Regions from separate parts of the Homo sapiens genome. Here all the other regions are reported to be linked to region 2. Evidence: microRNA targets listed by miRTarBase, many of them from high-throughput screens and not tested one by one. Region 2 holds a microRNA gene; each other region holds the end of a gene's coding sequence. Distances are from middle to middle.

Region 1 (4,367 bases), not on the chromosome of region 2:
GCTGGATTAACTCATCACTCATCCCTGAGAGGCTGATGATGTGCCCAGGTCATGCTTCTAGTTTAAAGCAGAATCAGGACTAGAACCTCTGTAACTGACATTTTGGTCTCTTTCCTTTGGGATTCTGTAGTTTTGAGAAGAAATCTTAACTCTCCCCTTTCAGGTCCAAGAGTGATCTGATCATATGACTTGTGTTTGTAAGCACTAACATACCTCAGGGAAGGAAAAATAGGTAAATGTTTCACCTGCCCATAGAAAAGCACTCACACTTCCCTCTCCTTCCTTCTTACTACTGTAGGCTTGGATAAAATTGAGTTTCTCCAGAGCCACGAGAACCAGGAGATCTACCAGAAGGCCTTCGACCTCATTGAGCACTACTTTGGTGTAGAAGACGATGATAGCAGCCTGGCTCCCCAAGTCGATGAAACGCAACAGCAGTTCATCTTCCAGCAGCCTGAGGCCCCCATGGAGGGCTTCCAGCTATAATATCTGCCTCCAGGGAGGGGAGGGGATGGGAAGCACCACCAGCCAGCGGAAGAGCAGCCCTCTGGTGGGCGGGAAACCAGTGTCCCCACCATCAGCCACCACACACCTCTGCTGCCCTGGAGACTGTGCTCTTGACCTGCTCCGCCCCCTTCCCTGGAGGGAGCACCCTCTGGACAGACAGAACCATCTGAGGCTCACCTTTGGGTTTTGTGACAAGAAGGGGACGTGTTGGGTTTTTCTTCCTTACACTATATTTTGGCTGCACACATGTCTTTAACCCAGGAGCCCAGGGGTAGACAAAGGAGGACTAAGGTAATCAATTTGCACCTTTTTTTATTTTTATTTTTTTTCTTTTTTTCTTCAGTGGTGACTTCCTTCCCTTTATCTTTTTTCATTCTTCCCGGTCCTCTGCCCTGATCTGTGTAACTCTTATCTTGGGTACTTGAGCAGACGGTATATTCCAGAGGTGGGAGGTGGGAGGGGAAGGGAGAAATCCAAAACAAAGTGTTCTTGCTCTGACAGAATATTAATCTTGTACGCTTGGATTGAGTTATTTAATTTTTTTTTCTTTTGCACATTTTTCTTGTATTAAGATTGCTCTTCCCAAGAGCCACAAGTTCCTGGTTTTAGTAAACCCAGCTGCCTGCATTGCCTGGGACTAGAGGCTGGGGAGGCTACCATGAAACAAAGGTCCCTCCCTCCCTCTGACTCTTTGCCCAGACCTCTTTAGTTTGGGGGATCCTCCTCACTCTCCTGAAGTGTCTCAAGTATACCAGTGGGAGTGCAGGGGAGGAGCACAGGCCTTCAGATGGGGCTTCCCACGTGTAGCTACTGATCCCATATTTCCTACTCACCTTCCAAATGGTGCGACCCAACTTCATTTGTTTACTTGAAAATTCCCCCTCGAGGTTGAGAGAACCTCTGAGGTGGCTGTATTTTCTCCTAAGCTTGAGATAGGGGGCTGTGGTCCTTCCTTTCTCCTGAGGAGAAAGTCCTTGCTCTGGTGACCTGTAAGTTGCAGAGGAGGGTGGAGTGAGAGTGTCATGTATTGGGATAGTCAGGGATCCCTGCCTTTGGCCTTTCTTCTTCTTCTTCTTCCTCTTCCATAGTTGGATCATGTATATTTTACTTCTAAAGGAGAGAATGTCAAAAAGTTCTGTATTTTTTTATATTCTATATATTAGGTAGGTCAATCTTAATTGGTCTCAAGAGGAAGAACTGTCTGTCATTTCGGTAAGTAGGATACTGTGAGGAAGACCAAAAAGAGATATGGATGCTTCCTCGCTCAGGAGGCCTGAGCTTGGTCCTTTTCCTCTCTGCTTGGATTCTGGACCACCACCTGGGACCAACCTTCAGCTCTGGAACCTTCATAAAGCAGGTCAGCGTGGCCTGATTGTCCCAGGACCTGAAGGGAGCAAGGATGGCCTCAGGGCCTGGTGAAGTCTGCTACTCTGTCCTTACTGCTGAACATCCTGCTTGTATCAGGAAACTCAGAAGCAGTTTGCCTTGTCAAATTCAATCTCAATGGCCATTGTCCACATAACTGATCACCCATGGCTGCCTCTCCTATTATCTATTATCACTGAAACTTAGTAGCCTGCTTTTTTTTTTTTTTTTTTTAGAGCTATTGCGTATCTTCCCTGTTTGGGATCCTTGTACCTGGTTTGGGTTTTCCCTTCCTTGTGACAATTATAATCCAGATGCCTCTTCTTTCTGTTTGAATTACGGTAGTGCATTGCCTTAGTGGCTTGCCTGTGCCTCTGGGTGGATTACATATGATAGTAAAGCCCACCTGTTTGGATGGGAGTAGAGGAAGTTGGTGTAGACCAGCTGTGGAGCTGAAGGCACAGTCTGCCCCACCCCCACCTCCCCACTGTGGTTAGTCAGAGGCATCCTGCTCCAAGCTCTGCTTTTCCTTCCTCTGAAACAATGCCATTCTTGCTTCTATTGCTACACATCTCCTTCTGGCTCAGGTGAAATCCATGCCCTTCTGCTTATAGACCTAAAGTTCAGGTACTTATTATTGGCCATTGATCTTGAATTTGCCCTCTCCTAGTGCTGCAGTCCCACTTCAAAGCCATTTTCTGAGGAGGATGGTTTAGGTCTGGCAATTGTCCTTGAAAAATCCCACCCATGTTGTACCACCTTGGTGAGTCATATGCCACTCATCAGCTTGGGAATGATGGCTGCCAACTCCCAATCTCCCAGGAAGGCAGGGGGCAGAATCTTTTTTTCACTTGGCCTGCTACCTCCATTAAAAAACCATTCTCTTACAGTTTAAAAAAAAAAAAAAAAAAAAAGCCTTCCCCTACCCAACCTCCGCCCATTGTTCTCTTCCAAAGGGCAATTTAGTAGGATCTACTTTGTACATCTCAAGTAAGAGTTAAGTCCCTGATACAGGGACCAGTTTCTTAGTGTAAGACATACACATCCTGCTTGTCCAGCTGTTCCTCCAAAATCTACTTTGGCTTCAGCTCCGGGTCCTGTACCAGATGGAAAATGTTTTTGGTGATCTGGCTGCTGCTTAAAGCCAGTTTTCCCTAAGAACTCCAAAGGCTAAAGTCTACTAGGGGCAGAGTGTGAGGATAGATTTCTAATCAGAGAAAAGTGGCCTCCAGGAGCTTTCATTTATGTCTTCTCCAGACCAGGTTTTCCTGTTATCTTCCTTTAATCCCCTTTCAACCAACAGGTGAAGTTCTTCCAGCCCACAGAGGTAGTAATATCATCTTTTCTATCTCCTCCTCTCCTTTGGCCATGTAATGAAGCAAAATATTATTTATTTAGCCCAGGCTTGAGAGCCACTGTTTGTGGACAGTCTTCATCTAGATTCCATACCCTGGCCTAGGCGAGGTAAGGCTCTCTGGTTATTGCCAGGATGGAGCCCCTCTACCCCAGTCTGCTGTAGGGAATACCCTAATTAGTTGAGGCATGCTTTTGGAATCCTGGCATGTTGGCATATGGCTGGTCTATCCTTTTTAAGATCTCTGGTTGGGGGTATCTGGATATGGATTAGGAGGGACAAGGAGCCTTTTTCTTGGCTAATGTTTTCCAATACTTTTTTGAATGGTGCCAGCCCCTCCAGGCATCCCACCCCCAAATCATCATCTTTAGTACTAACAGGGTGTCTGGTCTTAGAAGCCTCCCTTCAGATCCCAGCTGACCCTGGTGACTGCCTGGCCTTGATGTTGGCTGCAGCCTTCTGATAGAACCACATGGATTCCACCCACAGCTGGCCAGGCTTGTTACATGGGTCAGGGAATACAAATGGCCCCCCCCCAGGGAGCAGGTGTTGGCCTCAGTTTTCAGGGACCCTTGGTGTTGCTCCTTACCTAGAGCCCATTAATCTACCCCATCAACTCTCTGCCATGAAAGCCATCTTCCAGGAGCCCTGTTTTTTGGAGCTGAACTGCACAGATTATAGCTGCTATTGTACTTAAATAAGGGAGAGGAAAAGAAGGTTCTCAGGCACAGACTTTCTATTTTTCTCAAGCCAAACCAGTTTAAAATGTCTAGCAGAATGAACTGTATTTCCATTTCTTCATGTCTACCTGCCTTCCCCCCACACCCTAAAGTTGTACTTGTTTCTAGCAAACTAGAAGGAAAAGATAGGAAAGCCTGGCACTACTAACCTCACCTCTCATACACCTCTTTGAAGGCCCCAGCTCTTTTGTTCAGGCCTCTCTTCTCCCCTAGACTCACTCAGCTTGGTATCCATCATCTTGAGCATTCTTCAGTAGATTCATCTAGGGTTCAGATTCCAGACTCTCAGCTGAAGACAGGGAGCCAATTTCCCCCAGGTCCCTGCAGGTAATCCAGGGACCCCATAGGGAGAACAGGCTGACTGGGGCATTAGGAATGTTTGTACCTCTCTGCTTCCCTGG
Region 2 (4,367 bases):
AGTGCAATGGTGTGATTTCAGCTCACTGAAATCTCCTCCTCCTGGGTTCAAGCTATTCTCCTGCCTCAGCCTCTGGGTAGCCGGAATTACAGATGTGTACCACTGCACCCAGATAATTTTTGTATTTTTAGTAGAGACGAGGTTTTGCCATGTTGGCCCTGTTGGTCTTGAACTCCTGACCTCAGGTAATTCCTGTCTTGGCCTCCCGAAATGCTGGGATTACAGATGTGCACTACCACACCCCGCCTTTTTTTTTTTTTTTTTTTTTTTGAGACGGAGTCTTGCTCTGTCACCCAGGCTGGAGTGCAGTGGTGCGATCTCAGCTAACTGCAAGCTCCGCCTCCCGGGCTCAGGCCATTCTCCTGCCTCAGCCTTCTGAGTAGCTAGGAGTACAGGCGCACACCATCACGTCTGGCTAATTTTTTTTTTTTTTTTGTATTTTTACTAGAGACAGGGTTTCACCGTGTTAGCCAGGATGGTCTCAGTCTCCTGACCTTGTGATCCACCCACCTCGGCCTCCCAAAGTGCTGGGATTACAGGCGTGAGCCACCGCGCCCGGCCCACACCCAGCCTATTTTTTACTTTTTTGAGACTGAGTCTCACTCTGTTGCCCAGGCTGGAGTGCAGTGGCTCAATCTCAGCTCACTGAAAGCTCAGCCTCCTGGCTTCAAGTGATTCTCCTGCCTCAGCCTCCTGAGTAGCTGGGATTGCAGGGGTGCACCACCACCCCGTCTGGCTAATATCTATATTTTTAGTTCAGACGAGGTTTCATCATGTTGGCGAGGCTGGTCTCAAACAACTGACCTCAGGTGATCCTCCTATCTCAGCCTCCCAAAGTGCTGGAATTACAGGCGGGAGCCACCGTACCCAGACTAGTCCCATCATTAAAATTAGGGAAAAAACAAAGATGCCCACACCTGAACAGCAAATCATTTGTTGTTCAAGGACATCTCAGATACATTGTTTGTCTAAAATACAAGTTTAACTGAGGGCCCGGTGTGAACCAAATAATGGTTCTTACATTCTTCTTGTCTGTGCATGGGTTAATATTCACATGTAGTCCCATCTAGCAAGGACTGCGGGGGGCAGAGGCAGGAGGATCTAAGCCCACTTTAGCCAGGGTGGCATAGTGAGACCCCCGTCTCATGCATTTATTTCCTGGTCACGCACCCAAGATTTCAGCTTCATTTCCCCAATAAACACTGAAGCCCCATGCACTCCACCTCCGTGCTCTTGCTCATCCCATCTGCAGGGACACTGAGGTCCCTTCAACTCCACCTGACCCCACGTGAGGTTCTATACCAGTGCCAGAAAAATTTCGATAAAGTAAGAGGTGTTGATGGCCACGCACCATGGCTCATGCCTTTGGGAGGCCGAGGCGAGCAGCTCACGTGAGTTCAGAGGTTTGAGACCAGCCTGGTCAACATGGTGAAACCCCGTCTTTACTTGAAAAAAAAAAAAAAAAAAAAAAAATTCAGGCCGGGCATGTTGGCTCACACCTGTAATCCCAGCACTTTGGGAGACTGAGGCAGGTGAATCATTTGAGGTCAGGAGTTCGAGACCAGCCTGACCAACATGGGGAAGCCCCATATCTACTAAAAATACAAAATTAGCCAGGTGTGGTGGCACATGCCTGTAATCCTAGCTACTCAGGAGGCTGAGGCAGGAGAATCACTTGAACCCAGGAGGCTGAGGTTGTATGGGCCGAGATCATGTCATTGCCCTCCAGCCTGGGCAACAAGAGTGAAACTCCATCTCTCTCTCTCTCTTTCTCTCTAACACACATACACACACATACGCACACATTCGAAAAGCAGTCAGGCGTGGTGGTAAGCGCCTGTAATTCCAGCTACTCAGGAGGCTGAGGCAGGAGAATTGCTTGAACCTGAGAGACAGAGGTTGGAGTCAGCCGGGATCGTGCCATGGCCCTCCAGACTTGGCAACAGCAAGACTCCACCTAAAAAATAAATAAATGAATGAATAAAAAAGAAAAATACAAATATTAGCTGGGCATGATGTCAGGTGCCTGTAATCCCAGGAAGCTGAGGCAGGAGAATCACTTGAACCCAGGAGGTGGAGGGTGCAGTGAGCTGAGATTGCACCACTGCACTCCAGCCTGAGTCACAGAGCAAGACTCTGTCCCAAAAAGGACCATTTGAGCCCAAGAGACCTAGGTTGGAAGTGCCTCTGTACTCCAGCCTGGGCCACAGAGACCCTGTCTTAGAAAACAAAAAAAACCCAGAACCCCAACATCATCCAAGTCTGATGATAAGCATGCAAATATATTACCAACATCAGCATCAACTTCAACACTGCTTTTCCCAAACAGTAACTCTAAAGGGAAGCACTTTGTTTTTTCTCAGACAACAAACAGAAAGTGCTTCCTCTAGAGGGTCACAGCATGGGATCTTCTTGCTCCAGCACTCTGGGTTTCTTGTTGGAATTTTCCTTGACCAGGTTAAAATACACACAAAATAAAGATGCATTTATTGGCCCTGTTTGCATATTTTCTGGAATCCAGAACATAAACCCCTAAAAGGACCATCTCCAGTTCCTTGCTTCAAAGGCTCAGCAGGTTAGCCTTGTTCACCAAGGGGCAACCCTCCTGAGTTTTGTCCCCAAAGAGAAAAAGCAAAGCCTACTACACATACCTTATATTTAACCAAGAGATTAGGGCAGAATTTCCAGAGAACAGCAATGGATTTTGAGCCAAGTGTTCAGCTGAGTTCCAGGACAGGGGCACACAGTCCCGATGGAAGCATCCAAAATGGAATCTACAATGTTGAAGAATATACATTGTCTCACACACAAACATCCTCCAAGATAGACCACAGTCTAGGCTGACTCTACAGGACCATTTGAGATTAGGGGTGATGGCTCACAGCTGTAATCCCAGTACTTTGGGAGGCCAAGGCTGGTGGATCACCTGAGGTCAGGAGTTTGAGACCAGCCTGCCCAACATGGTGAAACCCCATCTCTACTGAAAACACAAAAATTAGCTGGGTGGGGTGGTAGGCACCTGTAATTCCAGCTATCTGGGAGGCTGAGGCAGGAGAATCACTTGAACCCGGGAGGCCGAGGTTGCGGTGAGCCGAGATCGCGCTATTGCCCTCCAGCCTGGGCAACAAGAGCGAAACTCCGCCTCAAAAAAAAAAAACAAAAAAACAATAATAATTAGCAAGACCTGATGGCAGGCAACTGAATTCCCAATGATTCGGCAGGCTGAGGTGGTAGAAACACTGGAACCTGAGAGGTGGAGTTTCCGGTCAACAGAGATTCTGCTACTGCACTCCCAGTGAAACCAGAGTGGGTCTCAAAAAATCAAAAAATAAAAAGAGGACCACTTGAGCCCAAGAGATCTCGGTTGGAGGTGCCACCCACTCTAGTCTGGGCAACAGAGACACTGTCTTGGAAAAAAAAAACAAAACAAACAGAACCCCAACATCATGCACGTCTGATGATAAGCACGCTCTGCAAATGTGTTACCAAGATCAGCAGCATCTTCAACGTTGATTTTCTCAAACAGTAACACTCTAAAAGGATGCACGATCTTTTCTTAGACAACAGACAGTGCTTCCATCTAGAGGGTCACTGCCTGAGATCTTCTTGCTCCAGTACTCTGGGTTATTTTTTATGTATTTATGTATTTATTTATTTATGTATTTATTTTTTGAGATGGAGTCGCCCAGGCTGCAGTGCAATGGTGTGATTTTAGCTCACTGCAATCTCCTTCTCACGGGTTCAAGAGATTCTCCTGCTGCCGCCTCCCACGTAGCTGAGACTACAGGTGTGTACCACCACGCCTAGCTATATTTTGCATTTTTAGTAGAGAGGAGGTTTTGTCTTGATGGCGGGGCTGCTCTTGAACTCTGACCTGAGGTGATCCACCCGTCTCGACCTCCCAAAGTGCTGGGATTACAAGCGTGTGCCACCGCACCCGGCCTATTTTTTATTTTTTTGAGATTGAGTCTCACTGTTGCCTAGGCTGGAGTTCAGTGGTGCGATCTCAGCTCACTGAGAGCTCAGCTTCCCGGCTTCCTGTGATTCTCCTGCCTCAGCCTCCTGAGTAGCTGGGATTACAGGCGTGTACCACCACCACACTGGGCTAAGTTTTGTATTTTTAGTAGAGATGGGGATTCACCATGTTGGCCAGGCTGGTCTCAAACAACTGACCTCAGGTGATCCTCCTGTCTTGGCCTCCCAAAATGATGGAATCACAGGTGTGAGCCGTGGTACCCAGCCTTGTCCTATACTTAAAATTAGGAACAAAAAAAGATGCCCACACCTAAACAGCAAATCATTTGTTGTTCAAGTACATCTCAAATACATTGTTTATCTGAAATAGAAATTTAAGTGGGGGTGGGGCA
Region 3 (4,361 bases), not on the chromosome of region 2:
CTTTGACCTTTGAGCTGCCGTCGGTCTGACCACAGAAAGAGAAGGTGGATGGCAGTGCTTCAATTACATATAATATAGATATGCTATGCAGTATTATTTTTATAATTTCTAATACAAATGACTATATACTGTCTTAATGGACTTAGAAATGATGCCATAGTGGAGACCATCTTTCCCAAAGGACAGGTGAGTTCCCCTACCTCCATCCTCATCTGAGAGTGGGCTCCAGGGTCTCCCTGGCTCCCCTTTCATGCAATTTTTGCTGGGCAGATTCCAGTGCCCATCTTGACAGCACCCGGGCCGGCTCCGCCTTGGGACACGCCCTCCCAGGGGATACCCTTGTGTCTTAGCAAAAGGTCCTGAAGCCAGGAGGCTGGTCCGCTGAGTCAAGGTTGCTTCATGGAGCCTATTTTGACTTCTCTGTGGACCATTCCTACTTCTCTTCCCAGTGCCGCTCAAACTGTCAGTTTCAACCCACAGGTCCCTTTGTGACTTGGGTCCCCACAACATGTGATTATTGCCTCTCCTACTCTGCTGTCCGCTGTCAGTTGAGACAAATAAGCCATGTGTTTTGGCATTAGCAATGGGCCTCCTGCTCAGGGAGAAAATGAACAAACCTGTCCATCTTCCCTTTTCACTTCCCACACCTGGCATGCTTGAAAGAACCAAGGAGGTGGTATTGCCTCGGCTTGCCATGCACCCCTCATTCCTAATCTCGAGGTGATAGAATTTGGATGTAGTGACAGGATGAGCGTTGCTATGACAACCCACTGATGCTAGGTGCTCCATAAGAGGGCATTTTTGACAGGTCCTCGCAAAGTCTGCCATTTGTGTGGGGACCAAATCTCCTATATTTGTGCACTAGACATACCTAGGGACATAGCACCCTTTATGCCTTCAAAATGCCGCATGCATATTTGTGGGCGTCCCTCTTAAAGAAATAGCAAAGCCTTACTTTGTAATTTGGGAAATAAGAACCAGGTTTGTACTGGAAGTGGACTCGAATCTGGACCTTTCTCTGGGCTCACAGGACTCAAGGCCAGGACTCAATCAAAACATCTGGCTTGCTAGGATGATTCCAAGGGTCCAAAGGGCAGTCATGGGACTATCATGTCGCTTTCTGCATAATTTTTCATTCATTTAGTTCGAGCTGTACTGGCTCCTTCAATTCAGAACTCCTCAGGCTTCTTCAGGCAGCCTGGGCCTTGCAGTGGACTCATGAAGGTTCTTGTCTCTCCCCTTCCCCTCTCTCCTCAGGTGCTCAAATACGCAATCAACCACCAGTTCCTGTGTTTGCAAACTTCCCACTTTGAGACTTCCAACTGTAAGACTGTATATTGTCTTAATGGACTAAGAGTGAGAATGATGTCATAATGGGGACCATCTTTTCCAAGGGACAGGTGAGTCCCCCCTCTCCATCCTCATCCAAGAGTGGGCCCCAGGGTTCTCCTGCCCCCTTTCCTGCAAACTTTCCTCAGATGTGAGGAAACTTCCAACTTTCTCTAAATATAAAAAAAAAAAAAAAATCACATCTGTTAATAGACCTTTTAAAAAAGCCCAGCTAGGCAAGGCTGCCCAGGAACACCAGAGACACCAAAAGAACAGGAAGAAATATGCCTTTTATTAGGAGTTGCATATGTACAGAGAAAGCTGTTTCTCACAGCTCAGGGGAGGCTGTGAGAAAGAGCCACTGTCATCCAAGGTCACTGCGCGTACACTGGTAACACCACTTAGACACCGCCGCACGTGATTAAGAAACAGAACCATGACACAGAAATGCAGAAGAGACACGGGTACGTGTGTGGACACATCATTTCTAAAAACAAGTCAACACAAAAATACAATGTGCCAATAAAAAAAAAATAGACATATCCATACATGTCTTTTTTTCTGTTTTTAAAGTAAATACATGGTATGCTGAGCTTTCACCTCCAGCTTTTTCCACATCGGGATTCACAGGCACTTTAGCACCCCAGCCATGGTTTACAATACAGGATGTTCAGAACAATGAAGGAAGATGGGAGCCACCGAGATCCCCGAGACCCACACACACACTCTAATACTGACGCGAGAGTGAGCTTCCTGCCACCACCGCTGTGGGACCCGAAAATGTTCTCTGTGTGATGTGTAACGGCTTTTCCTTTGTCTTTTATGTTTCATGGCAGAACTACTTAGGAGCGCGGCATCGCCAGTCAGACATGCAGTGTGTGGATGCATTAGACAAGCATCAATTGCCTCTGACTTGAAAAACCGTAGAGAGCAGATCAAAATGACTGTCTGGTTTATCTCTGTCCCATTCTGTGCCCTTCCTGACAAGCTGTCAGAACAAAAACTAATTAAAATAATTACTAGGATGTACTGGGCCATGAGCTCTTCCTAGGAGAATTTCTTTCTTAGCTCTCCCCTCATGATAGACACAGGGCCAATGGCAGGCCCAGCTTCCCCCGGCAGGAGCCACTCCTGTCTCCCACGTTCCCCACACAGAGCTGTGGTGACTCAACCCACGTGTCAGGAACAGGACCGAACAAGCGTATGTATAAACGCAGACCAGGATCATCACTTTATTGGTAATGTTGAGTCATAAGGCAGTTACAAAAGGACCCCCATGGTGACCAAACAATGTTGGACTATGGCTTAGCTTCTGTAATAGGATGACCGACTCTCCCGTCACAAAGAGCTGAGAAAGGAAAGAGAAAACCACAGTGATGACAAAGTACGACAAATGGCTGTGCTGTGAAGTACCAGAAAGCCCCAATTTTTGGTGTATGTCGCCCACTTTTCCTCCACCAGAGACTAAGATGTCATCCCATAGCTAAGAGAACTTAGAGGGAGAAACAGGGCCGCACGTCATCCTCCACTTCAGGTGAATTTGTCACTGCAAGTGGTGCAGGGATGTTACAACCAAGCCGCGGACAACTCATGAGTAGGGCCGAGATTCCTGGTACTGTGGAGAGGCGCAGAGCATATGAACACCTCAAACAGATGATTGTCACAGGGTGGGAAATCCTTCCATGAAACAGACACTTGAGACATAGTGGCAAAGACATTAAGGCCTTCCATTTCTTTGCCTACACCGCTTAAAGGCACTGATACCAACAACAGAAATACTCCATAGTACCATCGAGGTTTTAAAAAAACTCCCAAAATACAAGTCTTCATAGGAAAATGTCTTTTATTGCGCGACATGAAGCATCCGTTATTTGCGTGCTCAGGAATAGAAGGGCCTCCCTTTCTCAGGAGTCTGAAGTCTGTTCAGCCTCGCAACCTGAGAAGGGGAGGGGGGCACATCTTGCCGGAAGGGCCCCTTGGGAGGGGCGTAACTGGGGTCCTGGACTTTCTTATACGAGTCATAGTTGCTGGGCCCCTCGGAAGGAGGCTGCTTCTTCATCTGCTGCTCCTTCCGCCTCTGTTCCTGGCGAAGGAGCTCCTGAGTTTCCAGCATGACCCTGGCGTTGAAGCCATGTCCTCCCAGGTAGCCGTTCCTGGAGCCTTGGTAGCTGGAGTACCTGGGGTTCTCTTTGGCACTCTGGAAGCCTTCCCCAGGGGAGTAGTTCTGCTCCCAAGAGTCCTGGGAGACCGAGCTGGCATTTTTCCTGCTTTGCCTAGAAAGCAAAACCCAAAGGTTAGTGTGAGGGTAGGAAGAAGGAGGGAGAGGGAGGAAAGGGGGCAGGATGGGATGGAATATGCATTTTCACTTTTCAACAAATATTCCTGTTCTCTCATCACATGCCAGACACTGCGATAGGGGCTGGAGAATTCAAAAATGACTGTCCTCAGCAAGCGCATAGTCTTAGACAACTAAACTAACAACGAGTAAACAGGAGAGAGAACTAGACTGTGCAGCTATTTAGAAACAGGGTCATCCTCCTGTGTCTGAGAAGGTTGTGTCTGTTCTGCTTAGGGTACCAATATCTCCTGCAATTTAGACACACTGGCAAAGTATAGAAGTATTAGAGGTTTGGCAGCTTCCATGGTAGGAATAATTGCTCGCTTTAGAACATTACAATTCAATTCTAAACAAGCACAACAAATATTTTACACAGCTGCCACCATAATGCCAGAAGCGCTAGCTAATATGAAGTACATGTAATGGATTACAGTATGAGTTCGGTTATGAAAGATTTAAGTCTAGACTCCTTTATGATAAAAAATGCAACAGGCAGTCCCTTAAAGCTCTGGCTTTCAAGTTGTGTATGTCAGCAACTTACACTCTCCGGGATACCTGCTCATCCAGATTGGACGGAGAGTCCGGAAGTCTGTAAAGTAAGCACTATTTTCTTATACATTTACCTTCACCAAAGGCCAGGGTGACCTACTTAACTTGCTTTCTGTCACCCCAGGATAGGCAAGTAAATCAGAGT
Region 4 (4,338 bases), not on the chromosome of region 2:
CTAACACAGAGATGTCTTGGGATAAAGAGGGTAAATATGCAATGGCGTGGGGTGTTGTGGAAAGGAAACAAACGTATGGTTCGTGTAGAAAGCAACGGCATTATGCTTCACATACTGGAGGGGCAGTGGGTGCCAGTAGTGTCCTGCTGGTCCTTCCTGAAGAACTGGATACAGAGACTATAAATAACAAGGTTCCCCCAAGAGGAATCATTGTTTCTATCATATGTAACATGCAATCTGTTGGCCTCAATAGCACCGCTTTGAAGATTGCCCTTGAATTTGATAAAGACAGATCAGACTGATAACCTTAACACCATAGGTGCAAAATGAGTTGTTCTGAGGTTTTTTTGAAACATTAAAGTTCCAAAACATGACATTTTTAAGAATAAATTTGAAATAGAGTATAACTGAATGCAGAGAATTATGTACCTCTAATTGCTTAATTTTGTAATGGTCTTTTATTGTAGAATTGGTTCTTTATACTCAGGGAAGTAATTATATTGTTTTTACTTTTTGAAAAAAGTGTTAACTCTTGAAATAAAATATTCTGATAAAATATGTACTTTCTGCATGTGTAATACAGAGAAAATCTCATTCAACAGGAGCCTCCAAATATCCGAGGTTTTTTTTCTTTTCTTTTTTTTTTTTTTTTTTTTTTGAAATGGACTCTTGCTGTGTTACCCAGCCTGGAGTGCAGTGGTGTGATCTTGGCTCACCACAACCTCTGCTTCCTGAGTTCAAGCGATTCTCCTGCCTCAGCCTCCCAAGTAGCTGGGATTACAGGCACCCACCACCATGCCCAGCCACTTTTTGAATTTTTAATAGAGACAGCATTTCGCCATGTTGGCCAGGCTGGTCTCGAACTCTTGATCTCAGGTGATCCATCCGCCTCAGCCTGCCAAAGTGCTGGGGATTACAGGCGTGAGACACTGTGCCCAGCCCAAATATCCTTTTAATATGAGAGCAGAAACAAAAGCATGAGAAATGGTATATTAGTTATCCACTACAGCTTAAAAGAAACGTTCAGAGAAGGAATCGGGAAATCAGGAGCAATATAGTCACGTGGGTCTGGCGCGGTCTCTAATGAGGTTGCAGACAAGGTGTTATGATCATCTGAAGAATTCTCCAGGGCTGGAGGAAATGCTTCCACATGGCTTACTTGCATGACTGCTGGCAAGAGTCAGTTCTCTGGCTGGTGGGTGGCAAGGGGACTCAGTTTGTCACCACATGGACCTCTCTGTAGGGCTGCTTGAGTATCTTATGGTAGTTGGCTTCCCGCAGAGTAAGTGATGAGACAGAGAGTGCCAGGCAGAAGTCACTCTTTTATAAACTAGCCTCAAGTCACATACCATCACATTTGCCAAATTCCATGGGTTACATGGGGCCTAATAAATGTTGAAGAGATTATATACATTGTGAATATTAGGAGGCAGGAATCACTGGGTGTCAACTTGGAAGTTGGGTACCACAGTCTGACCTCTGGTCCCCAATGATTTATGTCCTTCCCAATGCAAAATACTCTTACCTCCTTTCAAATCCTCCAGAAGTTTCACCTTAATATAGCATCAGCTCAAAGCCCAGTATCTTATCATCTAAATCAGGTCAGGTGCAAGTGTGAATGAGGGCTCCTTGGGATGAGTTCCTTAGGTACAGCAACTCAAGTAGTTTCTCTTAAGACCTGTGAACTGTAGTTATTTGCTCCCCATATGTGTAACATACCGTAGCACAGCAGATATAGGATAATTGCTAGATACCGTCCTCTTCAAAAAGTAGGGAAGTGGAAGACATACAGGAGACTGGCAATTCTGAAATTCAGTCAGACAGAGGTTGGCAACTCTGATTAGTATTCAAGGCTTCAGAATAATTCTTAGTTCTTGGCTATGTTCTCTGGGCTCTTAGTTCTACCTTACGAGTTATACTTTTTCTTTTTTTTAAGAGACAGCTGTTCACCATATTTCCCAGGCTGGTCTTCAACTACTGGGCTCAAGTGATCCACCCACCTCAGCCTCCCAAAGTGCTGGGATTATAGGCATGAGCCACCGCACCCAGCCCCTGAGTTATACTTTTTTTAATTGTTCTTTTTTACTTTTTTTTTTTTTTTTTTGAGACAGGGTTTCCCTCTGTCACCCAGGCTGGAGTACAGTGGCACAATCTCGGCTCACTGCAGCCTTAGCCTCCTGGGTTCAAGCAATTCTCCCACCTCAGCCTCTCGAGTAGCTGGGATTACAGGTGCGTGCCACCACTCCCGACTAATTTTTGTATTTTTAGTAGAGACAGCGTTTCACCATGTTGGCCAGGCTGGTCTCGAACTCCTGACCTCAGGTGATCCGCCCCCCTCGGCCTCCCAAAGTGCTGGGATTACAGGCGTGAGCCACTAAGCCTGGCCGCTTCCCCATACCTTTTTTTCATGAAAGGTAGCGTATCTTTCTAGCTGAGTGGTTTTCTCAGTGTGCTTTCCACTTGTAGAAGTTTGGAGACCCAAAGGCCTTTTTATACTCTCTTTCCTTTCCATCTAAGTTAACAGTGGTTCTGCCAATATAATATTTTATTTCTCTAATTTTTGAATTTTTTTTAGCAACCCTATTAACTGACAATATAATATTTTAAAATGTTAAGAGTATCCTGTGAATTTTATTGGGGTTTATGCCAGTAGACAAAAGCCACCCCAAAGTCCCTTCAGAATATCCCCTCTCTAACTTGGGGCTTGTCTCTGCCAAGATAATGGGAAGAACTAATTACGCTAATAATCTAATGAACTCTATTGTTTAAATAGTTCTCTGAAGCACCATGTTGATTCATTTTGAAGTCTTGAGAAAGGATTGTATAGTCATGCCCTCAATATCATCTTTAGACTATGTTTTCCTGGAAGTGCCCTCAATTATTATCTTTGCCTTGAAGCCATTTCTTAATTTTGGCATCATTTGCAATCTGAAGAGTCTGGGAATTTTTTAAACCATCAATTATTAATTCTTTACCAATAGTTCTTCCATTAGCTTATCTTTCTCTTGCATGTTAGTATAAGCAACAAGAATTAAGGAAGCACATTCAACACTGTGTATGGCTCTCTGCTCCTTCTCTTGCCCTGTGACATCCGGGCTCCCCCTTCTCTTTCCGCCATGGTTGTAAGCTTCCTGAGGCCCTCACCAGAAGCACATGCCAGCACCATGCTTCCTGTCCAGCCTGCAGAACCGTGAGCCAAATAAACCTCTTTTTATAAATTACCCAGCCTCAAAACAAAAAAACAAAAAACAACAACAAAAAAAAAAAAACACTGCATATGGAAATCCCATCAGCTAGTCACCCAATTCATTAGGCACATTTTCTGTTTTCTGAGTTACTCCTGGCGACAGTGTTGCTAAATTTTCTGTCAGTACTAAACAAGAATCCCTTCCTCTAATTGCCAATAAGATTTCTCTTACTTTCCTTAAGACTACACCTGCAGCCTCTTCAAAGGCCATACTTCTCAACAATTTCTTCAAGGCTCTTCAGGTTTTCATTAACACTTTCCTTAAAGTCCTTCCAACTTCCATCCGCTGCTCTGTTCCAAATACATACACACATACACACACACACGTAATTTAGATATAATTCACAGTCCATATGCCATAAAATTCTTTAACGTGTACAATTCAGTGGTTTTTAGTATAGTCACGAGATTATGTACCCATTACCACTATCCAATTCATTTTCACCCCAAGAAGAAACCTCATACCCATTAGCATTTGCTCCCCATTCCTCTGTCCTTCCAGCCCCTGGTAACCAGCAATCTACTTTCTATCTCTTTGGATTTGCCTGTTACGGATGTTTCATATAAATGGAATCACACCATATCTGGCCTTCTGTGTCTTGAGCTTTTTCCTGTAGTATAATGTGTATTAGTTATCTATTACTGCATAACAAATTACCCCAAAGCTTATTGTCTCACAGTTTGTGTTTCAGAAATTTGGGGGCAGCTTTGCTGGGTGTTTCTAGCTCAGGGTCTCATGAGTTTGTAGACAAGATGTCAGCAGGGGCTTCAGGCATCTGAGGGAAGGCTTGACTGGGGCTGGATAATCTGATTCCAAAATGATTCACCCACGTGGCCATGGGCAAGAGGTCTTTGTGGCTTGCTGGCTTTGGGCAAGAGTTTTCAGTTTCTCACCACATGGCCCTCTCCATAGGTCTGCTTGTCTGTGCTATGGCTTCCCTTTAGAGCAGGCGATTGAAGAAACAGGGAAACACCTCAATGTCTTTTATAAATCAGCCTTGGAAGCCATATGCCATCACTTATGCCAAATTCTGTTGGTTACAGAAACCAACCCTGATTTGGTGTGGGAGAGGACTGTAGAAAGGAGTGGA
Region 5 (4,367 bases), 2.9 Mb from region 2:
GTGAAGGGAAGGGAAATGGTCAGATTCTGAATGTTTTGAAGATAAAGCCAACAGTACTTGCTGATGTCTTGAATGTGGGTGGTGTCAGAAAGAGAGTCAAGGATACAACAATTGGAGGTCTGGAGGGGCCTGAAGGGGTAATGGGAGGAAAACTGCATGAGGAGCTTTTTTTTGTGGGGGACATTACAATATTTGTTTGGGGACATGTGAAGTTTAAGATGTCCATCAGATATCCAACTGGAGATGGCAAATAGGCAGTGAGATATATAGTTGGGTCAACAAATACACATACATATGCAAGCACACACATATCTCTTGAGGGGGTGGGGTCATTAGAGCATAGATGGTATGTTAAAACTGAGATTTAATATACCAGTGAGATTTTGAAATTGTCATCCCATTATTCGAACATTTCCTCTGAGAGAGCATAGTTATGTTACATTCTTTTGTTTATCTTATATCTACTCAGTTGTACCGTTTTAAATTCAAACAGCTTTTCTCTTGATATGACATTTCATTTCTGATCATATAAGTCTATTTTCCTGCAAGTAACAATGGTGGCCCCTTCCTTTCCAATATTTATCCTTTTCCTTTTTTCTGTTTCAGGGCTTTGTGGAGTGGTCAAAAGCTCCACAACAAACAACCATAGTCTTGGTAGTGTGCGTGCTTTTTTTGTTCCTGGTTTTAACGGGGATGCCTATGATGTTTCACATTTAACTATAATGGTGGCTGTTGTTTTAAAAGTTTAATTTAATGAAATAGATGCCCTATGTCATGTTAAGGAATTGTGCTAGTTAAAAATCAGGAATAGGTGTTGAATATTTTCAAATGCCTTTCAAACATCCTTTGAGATGATTTTTAAAAAATTTTTGGTGTGAGTTTTCACATACTTTATTTCCATGAAATGAAGACATCATTGATTGTAAAACATTATTTTGTATACCACGGAGAAAGAAAAGTGCTAATTAATCATTAAGATGCCACCAACTGGAAGATATCTCCTGACTTTGAGAAGATGAAAAAATGTGCAACTGAAGATCAATGAAATCTGGTACATTTCCTAACATCAAACCAACTTTGCATTCTTAAGGTTTTGGTGCACCAGTCTTTTCATACACTAGATTATATTTATTGATATTTTATGTAGGATTCTTGCCTCTATCTTCACATGTGAGATTGGTGCTATCTTTGTGAAGTTTTGGTATCATGGTTAAGCTTGCATCATAGAAAGACTTGGGTAACTTTTACCTTTTCTATGCTTTTCAATAGTTTCTGTAGCTTAGGAAGTATCAGTCCCTTGACACCTTACATGAATTCATTGTTATAACCAGGTCATAGAGTCATGGAGAGAACGTTTCAGCTAATTCTTGGGCAGCTTTCTTAGTTCTTTACAATGTTATCAGTTTATTAATACTTTTTACCTCTTGCATTTATTTTGGCGAATTACAGAGGTTTTTGTTTTTTTTTTTTTTTGAGACCGAGTCTCACTCTGTCACCCAGTCTGGAGTGCAGTGGCGCCATCTCGGCTCACTGTAAGCAGAGGGTTCATGCCATTCTCCTGCCTCAGCCTCCCAAGTAGCTGGGACTACAGGCGCCCACCACCATGCCCAGCTAATTTTTTGTATTTTTAGTAGAGACGGGGTTTCACCGTGTTAGCCAGGATGGTCTCGATCTCCTGACCTCGTGATCCGCCCGCCTTGGCCTCCCAAAGTGCTGGGATTACAGATGTGAGCCACCGTGCCCAGCCCAGAGTTCTTTTATCCTCTAGAAAATTCTTCATTCCATAGAGCTTTTTCATATTATTAGCTTAATTATGCATAATGTTTTATAATTAAAAATTTCTCTTTATTTTGTTCTATCCCCTGTTTCCTGTAAACTGCTGTTTGTGGTTTACTCGTTATTAGATTTGTCAAAGGTTTATCTAGCTTACTATTGTTTTTCCAAAGAACCAACATTAGGATTCATTTATATCCATTATTTCTTTTATTTGTAATTTGTTTTTCTTTGATATGTATTGCATTTATTTTTTATTGTTTTTCTTCTTTGTCTCAGTTTTTATACTGAATACTTGATTTATATTCTCTTTATATTTTCTATAATAGCATACTTATTAACGCAAATGTACTTCTGGATATAGCGTTGGCCACATCTTAACATTTGATTATTCATTTTTGTTTATGTTGTCTAAAAATTACATTGTAGTGTGTCTAAATATTACATTGTAGTGTTTCTAAAGAGTGCTTTGAAACTCAGTGATTTGGTTTATTTTTTGTTTAAAAATAGTTTTGTTTTCTTGTTTTACTGCACTGTGAACACAGAATGTGGCCTATAACACATCTGCTTCCAAAACTTTTTAAAAAGCTTTTAGTGTGGCCTAGAACATGTCCATTTTTTGTAATTGTTTCACGAACATTTAAGATGAAGATATCTTCTCTGTCTGTAGAACTGAAAACTTTATGTGCCTGTTAGTTAACTCAGTATCGTCAATTATATTGTTCAGATTCATGTGTTATCTAATTTTGGCCTATTATATTCATTAAAAACCAATAAGGTTATGTGAAACTTTGTTAGTACAATTGTTTTTGCTAATAAATTTTTATAATCTTTGCTTTATGTACTCAACAGCTGTGTAATTCGAGGCATATAAGTGCAGCATTGTTATGTCCTTGTTAATTAAATAATATATGTAAAACACCATATGACAATGGCTGGCAGATAGTAGGCACTCAATAAATGTTAATTAAAACCTGATTCTGAATCCTTTGTTAAATATAAAATGATTGTTTTCAGTCAATTTAATCCTTTGCCTTAAATTTTACCTTGTCTAATACTGGTTGATATTATCATCCTGCGCTCTTCTGTCTATGTATATGAGGTTCTTTAGAGAAATTAACAGGGAAAAGTATGGATTATCTCTCCATTCCTCTCTCAGGCTGATTGCCTGCAACAAGCAACCAGCCCTTAAGAGAAAGGAAAACAGGCCTTAACTATTACATTTTTTGAGATTCTACTGGAAATAAGAGAAGCTCAATTCAAATGAGCTTAAGCAAAATAATAATAATAATTATTATTATTATTCGTTCATGTTACACCAAAGTTTAGGATAAAATTGGCTTTATTTACAGCTGGTTCTGGGGGACCTAAAAATATCACTGGGGCTTTTCCTCTCCTCACCTCCCTCTCTTCCTTCTACATGGCTGGAGACAGCTATCATGGACCCTGTGATCATCTCTTCCACACGGCAAGGTGGGAGACCTGGCAGATTCCCATCACGCACACCTGCAACTCGCATCCTTGTTCTGCCTTGGGGACAAGAGTCCTGAAATTAGGGGAGAGAGAGCAGCAACTGCAAAGGCCCTGAGACATAAACCGACTGCCCAAGTAAAGGATGGAGAATGGACTGCAGCAGGTCAAAGGCGGAAGCAGGGAGATAAGTGTGGAGACTGTCTTAGGTGTCCAGTCAACAGGGGATGGGCCGGGCATGGTAGCTCATGCCTGTAATCCCAGGAGGGAGGCCAAGGCAGGAAGATCACTTGAGGTTAGGAGTTTGAGACCAGCCTGGGCAACACAGTCAGACCCTGTCTCTACAAAAAATAATAGTAATAAAAATTGTCAGGCATGGTGGCATGCACCTGTAGTCCCAGCTACTCAGGGAAACTGAGGCAAGAGGACTGCTTGAGCCCAGGAGGCTGAGACTGCAGACAGCCATGATCAGGCCACTGCACTCCAGCCTGGGTGAAAGAGTGAGACCTTGTCTCAAAAAAAAAAAAAAGCACCCAAAAATGAAAAATAGGGGATGATGTTGGGGGGCTAACTGGGCTCTGATTAGCTCAGACAGTGCCACAGGTCTTGACTGATTTTGTGGAATATTGAAAATAATCATGGCCGGGCATGGTGGCTCACACCTATAATCCCAACACTTTGGGAAGCCAAGGTGGGCAGCTCACTTGAGGTCAGGAGTGCGAGACCAGCCTGGCCAGCATAGTGAAACCCTGTCTCTACTAAAATACAAAGAAATTAGCTAGGTGTGGTGGGCACCTGTAATCCCAGCTACTTAGGAGGCTGATGCAGAAGAATCACCTGAACCCGGGAGGTCGGGAGGTGGAGGTTGCAGTGAGCAGCAGAGATTGTGCCATACCACTGCACTCCAGCCTGGTCAACAGAGCAAGACTGTCTCAAAAAAAAAAAAAAAAAAAAAAAGAAGAAAGAAAGAAAGAAAGAAAAAAGAAAAAAGAAAAGAAAAGAAAAAAGAATCATGATACTATCAGTAATATAAATCACATTAGCAATGGTCTTCTAATTAGCTCTACAGTATGCCAGGGACCTAATTTCATTGACGACAGAAGTATCCACTCAAGCCACTGACG
Region 6 (4,367 bases), not on the chromosome of region 2:
CCCAGGAGCCTGCTAACTGTGCAGATTATCAGGCCCAACCCCCCGAGATTCTGACCCAGCAGCTCTGGGGGAAGGGTGAAGAGCCTGCTTGTTTAACAAGTGCTCCAGATGAGTCTAATGCAAGTTGCCAGCGGAGGGCCACCCTTTGAGAAACCTCTCAGAGTATTTCATAACTCTTGCTGAAGTTATTTCTTCCAAGTGCAGAAAATGAAGCATTTTCTTTCTAATTATAGAGGCCCCCAGAATGAGAAGTGACAACAAGGAAAATCCACAACAGGAAGGGGCTAAAGGAGCAAAGCCATGTGCAGTGTCAGCTGGCAGATCCAAAGGGAATGGTCTGCAGAATCCTGAACCAAGAGGGGCAAATATGAGTGAACCTCGGTTGTCACGGAGGCAGGTCAGCTCCCCAAATGCTCAAAAGCCATTTGCTCACTACCAGAGACATTGCAGGGTGGAATACATCAGCAGCCCCCTAAAAAGCCACCCACTGAGAGAGCTAAAGAAAAGCAAAGGAGGTAAACGGAGTCTGAGCAACCGTTTGCAACATCTTGGTCACCAGCCCACCCGCTCAGCAAAGAAACCCTACAAATGTGATGACTGTGGGAAAAGCTTCACGTGGAATTCAGAGCTGAAGAGACACAAGAGAGTCCACACAGGAGAGAGACCCTACACGTGCGGAGAGTGTGGAAACTGCTTTGGGCGGCAGTCAACCCTGAAGCTGCACCAGAGGATCCACACTGGAGAGAAGCCATACCAGTGTGGCCAGTGTGGGAAAAGCTTTCGCCAGAGCTCAAACCTTCACCAGCATCACCGACTTCACCATGGGGACTAAAAGGAGCACTCCATGCTTTAGATTCACACGGAAGGTGTTTGTGTTTCTCCTCCCCCTTACTTGCATGTAAATCACAAAAACTGTGTGACTTACAAGGAAAGCACGAGGCCCTTGAGGAATGATGATGCACATTCTGCTGTGAGGAGGCCCAGAAAAGGCCAACCAGGGCCCAACCGTGCATGATGACAGGGTGAAGAGAAGGCAGGTCTGGGCACTGGGGCAAAGAGAACTTAAGTCTCTGCAGAGAGCAAGGAGTAACTACTGAGAGAGAATCAGGACAATCCTGCAGGTGGCCCGCTTACTGTTAAATCGTCCCTCTGTTGCTTTATCCTCTAAAATATGTTAAGGGATAAATTCTATATATATAGTTATGCATTTGCTGTCATACCAGACAATTTTTTATCATGAGCACACTTCTTTAATAAAGATGAGTGATCTACCAGAATTTCAAGGCAAAGTTAATTGGAAAATAGATCCCTCATATTCTTTCTGTAATTACTAGCTGTTTATAGCAAAGGATGAATTAAATGAGAATATGCACGTTTGTGCGAGAAGAGTTTCCAAGTAGTTAGATGGTGCTTTTACAAAAAGAAAAGAAAATTACATTTGAGGGATCTTTTTTGTATCAAAGCACCTTTTTTTTTTCCTTTTTATTTTTTGAGACAGGGTCTCGCTATGTTGCCCAGGCTGGTCTCGAACTCCTGGGCTCAAGCAATGCTCCTGCCTTGGCATCCCAAAGTGCTGGGATTGCAAGTGTGAACCACCGTGCCTGTTCTCAAAGCACCTTTGATTGAGAAAAAAAAAATCTACACAGTTGCTGCAACCCCAGCCTAACACATAAGGAAAAGCTACAGTGAGAAGCAAGTAGTGGACAAAGAGTACTAAGGAGATATAAAAGGGAATTCTTCCCACTCTCCTTTCTCACTTAGCCCATTAGCTTTAAGAATAACAAAATGCAATGGGGGTACAGTGGCTCACACATGTAATCCTAGCACTTTGAGAGGCTGAGGCAGGGTGATCGAGCCCAGGAGTTTGAGACCAGCCTGGGCAATGTAGCTAAATCCTGTCTCTACAAAAAATACAAAAATTAGCCAGGCATGATGGTGCATGCCTATAATCCCAGCTAGCTACTCTTGGAGGCTGAGGCAAAAGTATTGTTTGAGCCCAGGAGTTAGAGGCTGCAGTGAGCTATGATTGCACCACTCCACTCTAGCCTGGATGACAGAGTGAGACTCTGTCTCAGGAAAAAAAAAAAATAGCAAAAGGATTGGGGTAATGAAAATATTCTAAGACTGGATTACAGTGATGGTTGCACAACTCAGTAAATTTACTAAAAATAATTGAAATGGGCTAATTTTATGATATGTAAATTGTACCTCAACAGCGTATTTTTAAGTGACAAAATATATTTATATAAAATGAGCCCTGGAAATAAGCCTGAGCGATCATCTAATGCCACCTCCTCGTTTTCTCAAAGCGGAAATTAAAATGCAAATCAGTATACAATTCCTAGCTCATTGCTCAGTTTAGAGAAAACTTTTGGCAGATTAGTGCATTCCTGATGCAGAAAATAAGAAGCAAGTAGCATTTTTTTTTTTTGAGACAGGGTCTCACTCTGTTGCCCAGGCTAGAGTGCACTGGCGTGATCATGCCTCACTATAGCTTCGATCTTCTGGGCTCAAGCAATCCTCCCTCCTCAGCCTCCCGAGCAGTTGGGACTACAGGAATGCACCACCATGCCTGGCTAATTTTTCTATTTTTTTGTAGAGACAGAGTCTCACTGTGTTGCCCAGTCTATCCTCGAACTCCTGGGCTCAAGCCATCCTCTCACTTTAGACTCCCAAAGTGCTGGGATTACAGATGTACGCTCAGCAAGGTAGCATTCTTCACAAAACATCAGTATCATCAAGTAACTACCAGTCACCTCAGGGCTGTGGGCTGAGCTCTTCTGTACCCCCCAAGGAATCTCTTGTCCCTTCTAACTGCCGAGGGACATATGCACACCTATGAGTCCTCTTTGGGGCCTTTGCACACAATTGTTTCCTTTGCCTTTATTTCCTGATGCTCCCCACTCCCTCCTGCCTCCTCCCTCTCACAAGAGTTTCCTTCTCTCAAAGCCTTCCCTGAGGAGCCCTAGGCAGACTTCTGTGAAAATTGGGGTCCAGCCTCTCTGCTAGACCCCATACACCAGGGGTGCTCAAACTGGGAGCCCCCCAGGGGTTGTCGGACAAAGTCCAAAGACACTTTTGGTTGTTAGGACTGGGGAAGGGAGGCTTGTTGCTGGCCTCTAGTGGGTTCTACTGAACCGCCTGCAGTGCCGGGACAGCCAGCCCCCACAGCAATGACCTGGCTCAAAAAATCAGTATCACCAAGGCTGGGAAACTACCATGCACTATAACAGCTCTTTCAAAACAAGAACATTGTTTTTCCATAACTTTAGCTTCTGGACTTTGTCAATAACCAGCCAAGAGAAACAGATGTTCAGTATGTGAACAGTTGAGAATCCCCACTGTACCCACAGGGCCCATGTCTGCCTGAGTTCAGAGATCCTGGTGACAATCTGTTGAATGCACAGGTGAGCTTCTGTCTTTTGGGCAGAGGCTTATTGAAGGCCCAGTGGCCTTCCTTACAGCTTTTGTGGTCCTTTAGGTACTTTAGGCCCTGATCCCATTCCCATCTGTTATGTTAGATCATGAAGAATTTAGCTTCTGTATCCGAGCTGCCCCATACCTGGCTCCATCCTGATACCTCTCCCTGGTCAAGGCCTCTTTCTTCCTCATTGTGTTTCCACCTCACCCTACTGAAACCAGGCTGATTTCACTGTTGTCCCTTAATAACCTCCAAGTCATAGTCACATCTGTATTAGGTACTTTGTGGTGTGGTAACAGATGACCCACCAGCTTAATGGTTTAAAACAACACAAACTGGGGCCGGGCGTGGTGGCTCACACCTGTAATCCCAGCACTTTGGGAGGCCAAGGTTGTGAAAAGTTCACCTGAGGTCAGAAGTTCAAGATCAGCCTGGCCAATATGGTGAAAGCCTGTCTCTACTAAAAATACAAAAATTAACCGGATGTGGTGGTGCACGCCTATAATCCCAGCTACTCGGGAGGCTGAGGCAGAAGAATCACTTGAACATGGGAGGCAGAGGCTGCAGTGGGCCGAGATTGTGCCACTGCACTCCAGCCTGGGCAGCAAGAGTGAAACTTGGACTCAAAAAACAAAAACAAACAAAAAAACACAAAAAGCAAAAAAACCGCCGGGCACGGTGGCTCACGCCTGTAATCCCAGCACTTTGGGAGGCCGAGGTGGGTGGATCACGAGGTCAGAAGATCGAGACCATCCTGGCTAACACAGTGAAACCCCGTCTCTACTAAAAATACAAAAAAAATTAGCTGGGCGTGGTGGCAGGCACCTGTAGTCCCAGCTACTCAGGAGGCTGAGGCAGGAGAGTGGCGTGAACCCAGGAGGTGGAGCTTGCAGTGAGCCGAGTTTGCACCACTGCACTCCAGAGCCTGGGCTACAGAGCAAGACTC
Region 7 (4,367 bases), not on the chromosome of region 2:
CGCCTCGGCCTCCCAAAGTGCTGGGATTACAGGCATGAGCCACCGCACCCGTCTGGCTTGCTAATACTTAACTGTCAGAGTTGAGCATATCAACTCCCCCAGTGCTGAACAACCCAGGCCTATCCTGTAAAACCTAAAATATGGAAGACCTGAGAAGGTGCATGTGCTCTGCAGGCAGAAAAGCACTGAAGAGGGGAAGGGGCTGGCTACGGGTACTCAGTTCTTCCTCCCAAACTCACTGATCCACGCGCCTTCATCTCTGGGGAGGTAGAGAAGACAGCCATATGGAGAAGGCAATTGTTTTCCCACCCCTTCAAAAGAATGTACATGGGTGTGTTTCCATCTGTGATATGCTAAAATTTAATCTACTCTAGATAGATTTTTATATTAAGGAAGAGTAAGCACATTCCTTTATAAACAGAAACTTGTAGAATTTTATGCTGCTTCTTCATAGCCCAGAAGTCAAGCTTGTTTTTGAATGGTCATTTCATGACTTTCTTTTTAAAGGAACCAAAGGTAAATGAAAATACTAGTATAAAAGTACCACTTTTATACTATAAATATATTTATACTGTATATATTTATATATATTTATACTATATATTTTTTTACTATATATATTTATACTATATATATTTATAAGTATGTGTTCAGCACTGTGACAATTATTGTTACAAGGCATGCTTCTTTTAGATCATAATTGGGATACAACTAGAGCCTTGATTTTTTTTTTTATTTTCCTTTCGTTTTTCATGCCTGTTGACTGAGTGTATCTTATTTCCATAGATTGAGTGGGGAGCTTGTGCACTTGTTCTCACAGGAAACACAGTCATCTTTGCAACTATACTAGGCTTTTTCTTGGTCTTTGGAAGCAATGACGACTTCAGCTGGCAGCAGTGGTGAAAAGAAATTACTGAACTATTGTCAAATGGACTTCCTGTCATTTGTTGGCCATTCACGCACACAGGAGATGGGGCAGTTAATGCTGAATGGTATAGCAAGCCTCTTGGGGGTATTTTAGGTGCTCCCTTCTCACTTTTATTGTAAGCATACTATTTTCACAGAGACTTGCTGAAGGATTAAAAGGATTTTCTCTTTTGGAAAAGCTTGACTGATTTCACACTTATCTATAGTATGCTTTTTGTGGTGTCCTGCTGAATTTAAATATTTATGTGTTTTTCCTGTTAGGTTGATTTTTTTTGGAATCAATATGCAATGTTAAACACTTTTTTAATGTAATCATTTGCATTGGTTAGGAATTCAGAATTCCGCCGGCTCTATTACTGGTCAAGTACATCTTTTCTCTTAAAATTATTTAGCCTCCATTATTACAAAAAATTATAAAAATAAGTTTTCAGTCAGTCAGGATGACATCACTCCCAATGTTATGCAGACATACAGACGGTTGGCATACGTTATAGACTGTATACTCAGTGCAAATATAGCTGCATTTATACCTCAGAGGGGCCAAGTGTTAATGCCCATGCCCTCCGTTAAGGGTTGTTGGTTTTACTGGTAGACAGATGTTTTGTGGATTGAAAATTATTTTATGGAATTGCTACAGAGGAGTGCTTTTCTTCTCAATTGTTAGAAGAATTTATGTTAAACTTTAAGGTAAGGGTGTAAAAACATTTTTGAGATAAGGTTTTTATTTATGTTTATTATTGTTAGAGTGAGTTGCAATGTGGGAAGAAATGACATTGAAATTCCAGTTTTTGAATCCTGTTTCTATTTATAAGTGAAATTTGTGATCTCCTATCAACCTTTCATGTTTTACCCTGTTAAAATGGACATACATGGAACCACTACTGATGAGGGACAGTTGTATGTTTGCATCATATATGCCAGAAAACCTTCCTCTGCTTCCTCCTTTTGACTTATTTGGTATGTTGTATATATTACATAAAATAACTTTTCAAATATAGTTTAATAACACTTAGAAGTGTTTACTTACCTGGAAAATAATTGCTATGCCGTACATTCAGAGTGCCCCCTCCCCTGCAAGGCCTTGCCATGATTAACAAGTAACTTGTTAGTCTTACAGATAATTCATGCATTAACAGTTTAAGATTTAGACCATGGTAATAGTAGTTCTTATTCTCTAAGGTTATATCATATGTAATTTAAAAGTATTTTTAAGACAAGTTTCCTGTATACCTCTGAACTGTTTTGATTTTGAGTTCATCATGATAGATCTGCTGTTTCCTTATAAAAGGCATTTGTTGTGTGAGTTAATGCAAAGTAGCCAAGTCCAGCTATATAGCAGCTTCAGAAACATACCTGACCAAAAAATTCCCAGTAACCAGGCATGATCAATTTATAGTGGTCGTTTACATCTAATAATTATCAGGACTTTTTTCAGGAGTGGGTTATAAAAACATTCAAGTTGGTCTGACAGTATTTTGTTAAGGATATTTGTTTGTATGTTTATTCAGTATACTTACATAAAAATTATTTCGCCATCAGCCAAAACTCAGTAATCATGACAGCTGTCTGTTGTTTTATGAAGTTTATTTCTCAAGAAAATGGGAATAAATTTGGGATTTGTTCAGCTTTTTTACTAAAGATGCCTAAAGCCACAGGTTTTATTGCCTAACTTAAGCCATGACTTTTAGATATGAGATGACGGGAAGCAGGACGAAATATCGGCGTGTGGCTGGAGCCTTCCCACTGGAGGCTGAAAGTGGCTTGTGGTATTATAATGTTCAGATTTCAAGAGGAAGGTGCAGGTACACATGAGTTAGAGAGCTGGTGAGACAGTTGGGAACTCTTTGTGCTTGTGATCTACTGGACTTTTTTTTGCAGGAAGTGCATTCTCTGGTCCTTCCCTATTTTCTGTTCTGGATGTCAGTGCAGTGCACTGCTACTGTTTTATCCACTTGGCCACAGACTTTTTCTAACAGCTGCGTATTATTTCTATATACTAACTGCATTGGCAGCATTGTGTCTTTGACCTTGTATACTAGCTTGACATAGTGCTGTCTCTGATTTCTAGGCTAGTTACTTGAGATATGAATTTTCCATAGAATATGCACTGATACAATATTACCATTCTTCTATGGAAAGAAAACTTTTGATGATGAAACAATAAAGATTTTAAATATCTATTTTAGTTTGTGGGTGTTTTTGAAATGAAAATATATGGCACACTTTCATTCTGAAGTGCATTAACATTCTAATAAGGTGATGTAAAGCAAGATGACATTGGTGTAATGTTAGAGTTGCAGAAGTTTCCATTCCAAAATAAAATGGAAACCATAGTTACAGATATTACAATGCAGCCCTGTAATTTTGAGCTGTAGTAAAAGGATTGGTAATCTGGGAAGTAGAATTTTTACAAAATCTTTTACAAAAATAGTCATAAAAGGTTTTGTTGACATTTAAGACTACTACTGATCTAAAGGCAAGGTCCTACTTCTTAAATTTTCAGAACATTTTTATGACTTCTTATTATGTATTTATTACCACTCATTATTATAGCATGTTACTTTTTGCAAACATTTTAAACAAAAAATATTTCTGTTTGGTACACTGTGAAGAGAGAAAAGTACTGTTCTGTATTTTCAAATATTAGTCGTGTCCCAAATTGTCCTAATTATAATCTTATCATATACTTTAAAAAGTTTAGGCTGTGGACACTAAATGTCTGCTCTAATATGATTTTGGGGACATTGTCAATACAGATTTTTTTTTTTTTTTTGAGACTTGCTTTGTGCCCAGGCTGGAGTGCAGTGGTACGATCTTGGCTCACTGCAACTGCTAGGTTCAAGCGATTCTCATACCTCAGCCTCCTACGTAGCTGGGATTACAGGCATAGGTCACCACACCTGGCTAATTTTTGTATTTCTTGTAGAAACATGGTTTTGCCATGCTGGCCACACTGGTCTCAAACTCCTGGCCTCAAGTTATCGCCCTGCCGCTCAGCCTTCTGAGTAGCTGGGATTATAGGCCTGCACCACCACGCCTGGCTAATTTTCGTATTTTTTGTAGAGATGGGGTTTTGCCATGTTGGCCACGCTGGTCTCAAACTCCTGGCCTCAAGCCATCACCACCACAACCCCCCTCAAACCACCCCCCCGCCCCGAAAAAAAGTGCTGGGATTACAGGCGTGAGCCACCACACTTTGGCCAAAATAATCCAGATTTCTAAAGTCTAGGATATTTATATTGAATGTGACTAGATTTTTAAGTTTCAGATAACTTTTAATCAATGCACCAAAGTTAACAAGCAACACAACGTTATTGTTAAGTGGTATGTGTGTTTTAGATCCCAGGATGCTTTATGATGTATACGATTGGTGGGAAATTGAAATTCGTATTTCTTCTCTATAAGCTTGTATTGCCCTTTCTTTCAGTGAAGATTAGGAG

What was found. The annotated mature microRNA hsa-miR-520h reads ACAAAGUGCUUCCCUUUAGAGU and lies in region 2 at 2,332-2,353, opposite strand. An mRNA with a match to its seed (bases 2 to 7 or 8) in the 3' UTR can be bound and repressed. Matches are read on the target gene's strand: a 7mer-m8 pairs with bases 2 to 8, a 7mer-A1 pairs with bases 2 to 7 and ends in A, and an 8mer does both.
Region 1: miRTarBase lists KPNA6 as a target of hsa-miR-520h. The part of its 3' UTR that is shown has no 7-base or 8-base seed match.
Region 3: the mRNA of PARD3 is a reported target of hsa-miR-520h. The part of its 3' UTR that is shown has no 7-base or 8-base seed match.
Region 4: miRTarBase lists LACTB as a target of hsa-miR-520h. The part of its 3' UTR that is shown has no 7-base or 8-base seed match.
Region 5: miRTarBase lists SMIM17 as a target of hsa-miR-520h. Seed matches in the 3' UTR shown: 7mer-A1 at 1,005-1,011.
Region 6: the mRNA of ZNF174 is a reported target of hsa-miR-520h. The part of its 3' UTR that is shown has no 7-base or 8-base seed match.
Region 7: the mRNA of LEPROTL1 is a reported target of hsa-miR-520h. The part of its 3' UTR that is shown has no 7-base or 8-base seed match.

The regions. Positions count from the first base shown.
Region 1 is chr1:32,170,409-32,174,775 of GRCh38, forward strand. KPNA6 (karyopherin subunit alpha 6) reads left to right here. Exons shown (of 14, transcript NM_012316.5): 14 at 299-4,367. The coding sequence ends at 486. Among named protein-coding and RNA genes, the nearest start is that of TXLNA, 7.1 kb to the right of the region's middle.
Region 2 is chr19:53,740,552-53,744,918 of GRCh38, reverse strand. MIR520H (microRNA 520h) reads right to left here and starts at 2,407; the gene lies at 2,320-2,407. MIR517C (microRNA 517c) reads right to left here and starts at 3,606; the gene lies at 3,512-3,606. LOC124904765 (a long non-coding RNA gene) reads right to left here. Exons shown (of 6, transcript XR_007067334.1): 2 at 2,652-2,774.
Region 3 is chr10:34,107,961-34,112,321 of GRCh38, forward strand. It overlaps PARD3 (par-3 family cell polarity regulator), which reads right to left. Exons shown (of 25, transcript NM_001184785.2): 25 at 1,601-3,602. The coding sequence ends at 3,209. Among named protein-coding and RNA genes, the nearest start is that of LINC02629, 210 kb to the left of the region's middle.
Region 4 is chr15:63,141,504-63,145,841 of GRCh38, forward strand. It overlaps LACTB (lactamase beta), which reads left to right. Exons shown (of 6, transcript NM_032857.5): 6 at 1-558. The coding sequence ends at 302. Among named protein-coding and RNA genes, the nearest start is that of RPS27L, 14 kb to the right of the region's middle.
Region 5 is chr19:56,654,497-56,658,863 of GRCh38, forward strand. SMIM17 (small integral membrane protein 17) reads left to right here. Exons shown (of 4, transcript NM_001193628.2): 4 at 607-2,751. The coding sequence ends at 717. It overlaps ZNF71-SMIM17 (ZNF71-SMIM17 readthrough (NMD candidate)), which reads left to right. Exons shown (of 5, transcript NR_163263.1): 5 at 607-2,751. Among named protein-coding and RNA genes, the nearest start is that of SMIM17, 14 kb to the left of the region's middle.
Region 6 is chr16:3,408,088-3,412,454 of GRCh38, forward strand. ZNF174 (zinc finger protein 174) reads left to right here. Exons shown (of 3, transcript NM_003450.3): 3 at 234-1,277. The coding sequence ends at 832. Among named protein-coding and RNA genes, the nearest start is that of ZNF174, 9.1 kb to the left of the region's middle.
Region 7 is chr8:30,104,960-30,109,326 of GRCh38, forward strand. LEPROTL1 (leptin receptor overlapping transcript like 1) reads left to right here. Exons shown (of 4, transcript NM_015344.3): 4 at 787-3,565. The coding sequence ends at 903. Among named protein-coding and RNA genes, the nearest start is that of LEPROTL1, 12 kb to the left of the region's middle.